Regions from separate parts of the Homo sapiens genome. Here region 1 is linked to region 2. The links come from fine-mapping of genetic effects on gene expression. Tissue or cell type: breast. Region 2 holds a variant in brackets; the other region holds the start of a gene. All regions are shown on one strand. Distances are from middle to middle.

The links. PIP is the estimated chance that this variant, and not a neighbour inherited with it, causes the effect.
Region 1: it holds the start of MXRA7, and the variant in region 2 is fine-mapped to the expression of MXRA7 in breast (GTEx, PIP above 0.99). The same link has a PIP of 0.9 or more in whole blood.

What each region holds. Positions count from the first base shown.
Region 1 is chr17:76,709,677-76,712,430 of GRCh38, reverse strand. It overlaps MXRA7 (matrix remodeling associated 7), which reads left to right and starts at 1,466. Exons shown (of 4, transcript NM_198530.4): 1 at 1,466-1,826. The coding sequence starts at 1,485. RefSeq lists a silencer at 1,235-1,444.
Region 2 is chr17:76,684,168-76,686,921 of GRCh38, reverse strand. MXRA7 (matrix remodeling associated 7) reads left to right here. Exons shown (of 4, transcript NM_198530.4): 3 at 1,757-1,850. Among named protein-coding and RNA genes, the nearest start is that of MXRA7, 25 kb to the left of the region's middle. RefSeq lists enhancers at 1-326, 2,309-2,754. The variant T/C (reference allele first, on the strand shown) is at 1,569.

The DNA.
Region 1 (2,754 bases), 26 kb before region 2:
CTGAGGCAGGCAGATTGCCTGAGGTCAGGAGTTCAAGACCAGTCTGGCCAACACGGTGAAACCCTGTCTACTAAAAACAGAAAAAAATTAGCCGGGCATGGTGGTGGGCGCCTGTAATCCCAGCTACTCAGGAGGCTGAGGTGGGAGTTTCGCTTGAACCCGGGAGGTGGAGGTTGCAGTGAGCCGCGATTGCGCCACTGCACTCCAGCCTGGGCAACAGAATAAGACTCCATCTCAAAAGAAAAAAAATAGGCCCATACACTGGCTGAAACTTCCACAGTGGTTAAAAGCTAGTCGCCCGTAGATAAAGCCTATTTCACATTTTATAGTTTATAGGCTCTTTTCATCAACCACCACTAAAAGGAAGTGCATGGCCCGCTTAATATCGTGCAGTGCAGCAGAATTCAGCTCTCCCTGTTGCTGAGGGGTCTCGTTTGTGTATCTTCATTTAAAAAGAAGCACTCCATCTAATATCTGGTTTATATCACAGATCAGCTCAGGCACTGTAATATTCCCAAAAAAGTATTAAAGGCATCCTCAGCAAAAACTGGAACCGTGTTTTTTTTAACATTAGGCCTTATGTTTGGCGTGATACCTGACATGCCCGTCCTGTGTTTATTTAAAATAACTAAAGAGTGGGTGGGGAGTGGTAGGAAAGTATGTTTTTGGTTACAACGTGTTTATCTCAAAATCCACTGTTCAGCAACAGAGGCCTGGGAGGATCTGGAGAAACAAAAACAATAGCCTTCATTTCCTTCATTGTACCCTCCCACCCTGCATGCATTCTGGAATTGTGCAAAGAAGAAAGTCTGGTAAGAGGAATAGCGTTGACCAAGGACCTGCAGCTGAATTTCAGGTCTAGGGGCGGGGGAGCCATGTTACTGTTAACAGGGAGGCCTGTGTTGAAGGCTGCTGGCCTCAGCTCCGAAGGGAGCATTCACTGGCCGGGATCTGGAGATGTCCTCTGTGAAAGTGCATTAAGGCAACCCTGAGGATTAAAAGCAACTCCTGACATGCCTATAAAAACGGCAGTGGCTGAACGTAATCCGGCATTATGATTGCTTTACAAGCCAATCCAGGCTGCCGTTTCCATGAAGCTTCCCGGGTTTGCTTGTCTCTCTGCATTCCCACATTTCCAAAATGCTCTAAGACGAACCGCCGTACTAAGGCCAAAGATGACAACCTAAGGGCACCTCATACAGTATTTCAAATTGAACCTGAGCTAAATTGTGCCCCAAAGCGTCAAGGCTGCCCAGGCCGGGCAGGGGTTGGCCCTCCTGTGCCTCCCAGGTGGTCAGGGCTCTGCCCCCTCAACACCCCCGCCCGCAGCCTGTGCGTCACCCTCCCGGGGCCGGAGGGGGCGGGGGCGGGGCGCGGCGATGGGGGCTCCGCCCCGAGGCGGGGCGCGGCGACCGGGCGCGGCGACGGGGCGCGGCGGGCTCCCTCGGGGTCCCAGCTGGCCCGCACTCGGCGGCCGCGGCGCGATGGAGGCGCCGGCCGAGCTACTGGCCGCGCTGCCTGCGCTGGCCACCGCGCTGGCCCTTCTGCTCGCCTGGCTACTGGTGCGGCGTGGGGCGGCCGCGAGCCCGGAGCCTGCCCGCGCGCCCCCGGAACCCGCGCCCCCGGCCGAGGCCACCGGGGCCCCGGCGCCGTCCCGCCCCTGCGCCCCCGAGCCGGCGGCCTCGCCCGCGGGGCCGGAGGAGCCTGGAGAGCCCGCGGGGCTGGGGGAGCTCGGGGAGCCTGCGGGACCGGGGGAGCCCGAAGGGCCAGGGGATCCCGCGGCGGCGCCAGCGGAGGCGGAGGAGCAGGCGGTGGAGGCGAGGCAGGTACGCACCGGGGCCCTCGCGGCCCCCTCCCCACCCCCGGGGCTCCGGCTGCCGCTGCCGTTCCCCGCCGAGCCAGGGAGCGGGGCCGCGGCCTCCAGCCCAGGCTGCCCCCAGGAAGCGCAGAACCCGCGGCCCGCAGGAAATGCAGGTCCCGCCATGCTAAGCCGCAGCCCCGCAAACTCGCCGCCCTCCCCCAGAAAGTGTGGCGAGGGGCGAGCCCGAAGGAGTTTGTTTGGAGGTGTTTTGCTCTCCCCTCCCCTCGGCCTCTCCCAGCCCAGGGCGTGCTCCGCAGCTGCTGGCTCCCAGGCCTCGGGACCAGGGCTTGGAATTTTGCTCCTCACCCACTTCTGACCCCTCCCGCCCACCGGTTCCCAAATCCACGTGCCTGTGGCTTATTTCCAGGCCTGCCATGAGAGTTATCTTGATGTTTAAAAAGTAGGACTTTCGGGGGGCGAGGGAGGAAAGCTGGCTTTTCTTTTTCAGCCAATTTGAAGTCCAGATTTCAGAGTCAGTGCTGTGGCGTTTTGTGAAGCCCGTGGGCTGGGACTGAAAGAAAAGGCACCCGATCCCAGCAGTCCTTTTTATTGTCGTTTTCAAGCTACACATCTAACACCCTCCTACCCCCACTCCCCCGGGTTGTAGGTAAGCTGGGCCTGGATGGAGTGAAGATGCAGGATAAAGCCCTCCTGGAGCACCAGTGAGCACCCCAAAGCGGCCCTCCCTGCCTCTGCCCCAGGCCTCCCGCCATGCTGTCCATCAGCTCGGCCTTGGCCACCTTGTCCTGCCTGTGGATATCTGAGAGGAGTCGGATTTCCCTCATCCACTCATCCCAGCCCCTACACTGTGTGCCCATGTTCCCTGGAGTTCACCACGCTTGGCCGGTCCAGGCCACCGCCAGGGTCTCCGAGTCGGATTGTAATCCCTTGTT
Region 2 (2,754 bases):
TGCTCCTGAACATCCCCCACCCCCAGCGCCTCCTGCCATCTTAGCCTCCTGCCATCTCTAGCAAGGCAGGGAAAGGAAAGGTTTATGGCTCCAGCTGTTGGAAGAATGTGTGAGCACCTCCAGCCCCTCTGCAGTACGAGGCAGCCTCAGAGGTTAATTATTAGTGTCGCTAAAATGACTTCCCTGAGCGACTAGGTGAATTCACAGGAGACTGGAGGAAGAAACCTCCCCCGTCCCTCGGAGGCTGTCACGTTGAATTCTGGTCTAGCAAAACTGGATGCGCTGCCTGGTGCACTGCATGTGACTGAGCGAAATCCTTTTCAAGTCGTTTGTTCTGTCTGGCTCAGAAAACAAAACTAATCAGACTTGCCCCATAAATTGAAACCTAAGACTGGGACCAAGGCAGGATTTTGTATGTTTTCTTTTTTTGGGGGGTAGGGGGATACTGGAATCTTACTCTATTGCCCAGGCTGGAGTACAGTGGCGCGATCTCGGCTCACTGCAACCTCTGCCTCCCGGGTTCAAGCGATTCTCCTGCCTCAGCCTCCTGAGTAGCTGGGATTACAGGCGCCTGCCACCACGCCCGGCTAATTTTTTGTATTTTTAGTAGAGACGGGGTTTTGCCACATTGGCCAGGTTGGTCTCGAACTCCTGGCCTCAAGTGATCCACCTGCCTTGGCCTCCCAAGGTGCTGGGATTACAGGCATGAGCCACCACACCCAACCAGATGTTTGGGTTCTGAATTCGCATCTAGAACCTTCTTCCTTTCACCCTGAGAGCCCCCCCGCCTCCCCATCGGTCCACATCAGCCTATCCGGTAGCATGAAGGCTGCAAGCTAGAGGGGAGGGGCCTGGCTTTTCGGGCTGCTGGACAGGATATGGAGGGACAGAGAGGGCAGCACTTCCAGAATAGCAGCTGAGGATCTCTCTATGCCTCCCTCACTGGGTCCTTTAGTTAGTGGAGGTCGATAAGAGGCCAGCCAGCTCTGCCCGACACCTGCTGGATTCAGGAACCAAGAGGTTGCTCCCCCATGGGGCTTTTCCCTCTGGAAGCTCAGCTTTTCTCTCCTCACCGTGGCTCATGTGCCCGGAGCCTGTGTCCACTCCAGGCCACAGGTCCTGGCTTCCTCTGTGCCCACCACCTACCCATCCATGTGCCCTCTTCAGGCCTCGAGATCTGTCCGTTTTTTGCAGGCAGCAATGGGGGGTCTCCCCTCGGGGACTGGCAAATCGGGCTCTGCCTCTTCAGCGGTACACACGTCAAACCTGCTGCAGCAAATCCCGCATCCCTGGCCTGGCCACTGTGGGCTGCCTGGATGCGTGTTTTCAGATTTCCAATAGCCACAGGGGGTGGGGGGATGACACAAGCCTCCCCAAGCCCAGGCAGGCGTGGTGTGTGTCCCAAGATGAGCTGTGCTCTGCTTGCCGGAGTTGTCGCCTCTGAGCTCAGTAGCCGAGAGGACCTGCTGGGCAGGGCCAGGGCAAGGCAGAGCACTGCAGATGTTGGGAGGGATGTGGCATCTGGAGACAGCTGTGGACTAGGAGTAGGACTGCTTTCTCTCTGGCTG[T/C]CTCGTTGTAGGATTTAAGGGAAAGCTATGGAACGAGAGGGGGTATAGGCGCTGGGGTGAGATGTCTCTGATAGCCAGATGTGGCCTCTGCTTGAGGTGTTTCTTTTTAAACCTAGGGAAAGGGGGCCGGGGTTTGTGGGGCCAGCCTCTACAGCACTCCTGGCACTTACTGGGTCCCCCCTCCACAGGAGAAGGCTTCTCCTTCAAATACAGCCCCGGGAAGCTGAGGGGAAACCAGTACAAGAAGATGATGACCAAAGAGGAGCTGGAGGAGGAGCAGAGGTAGGCTGCAGCCCCTTCGCTGGCGCCTGGCGGGCTCTTGGGGGAGGGGGGTGCCCCTCTGAGCCCTTCATGTTCCTGCCCCTTGGCAGAAGGGCCCAGAAAGGAGGTGGGGCTCCTACACGCTCTGCCCAACCACCGCCCCACCTTCCCAGTTTAGGAGTTCTTTCCTGCCCTGGTCAGCCAGGCTCGCACACCCCTGGCACCCCTCCCTGGCACTGACCAGAAGGAGGCCACTGGTGATGGGGGATACAGAGCCCATTTACTGCACCCCCCCACCCCCTCCACACCCCACTGCCCCCATCTAAAGAAATGAGATGCCAGGAAAGAGCCTGGAGCAGACCTGGCTGTCACTCACACACACAGTCCCCAACAGAGCTGATTTCTCCATTTCTCCTTCGGGACACAGCGGATTCTTGGTGCTCATCCTTCAGCGGCCTCCCAGGCCGGCGCCTGCAGCAGCGCCTTGTAGCTCCGGGCAGTGCAGCTATGGCTTCTCGTTGTTGGAATTGGCTCCCCCTTCCCATTTGGACACCCCCTGCACAGCCACTGGGCACCCCGCCACCTTTTCCCTCCACACCATCCTGCTGGGCGGGGAAGGGGTGCGCTGGGCACAGTGGGACAGCTGGGGAGGTCTCAGCAGAGGGACAGTCCTTTGCACCAGGCGCAGCAGGCTCCTGGTGCTCACCCACACTGCTGCCCTTCTGCAGCGTGGCCTGGAGTCCTTTGGTTAAAGCAGAAGTCTAGGTGGTAGCTGTGCCATTTTCCAAGCCTGGCGACCCAGAGCAGCTTGTGGGAATCACCCCCTACTTGTCAGCAGAAACCAGCGGTCTAGGGTCCGAGCAGGAGGGGTGGTTTATGATTTTGGAATCAGAACTCAACTGCCCTCTCATGGCTGCATGCCAAG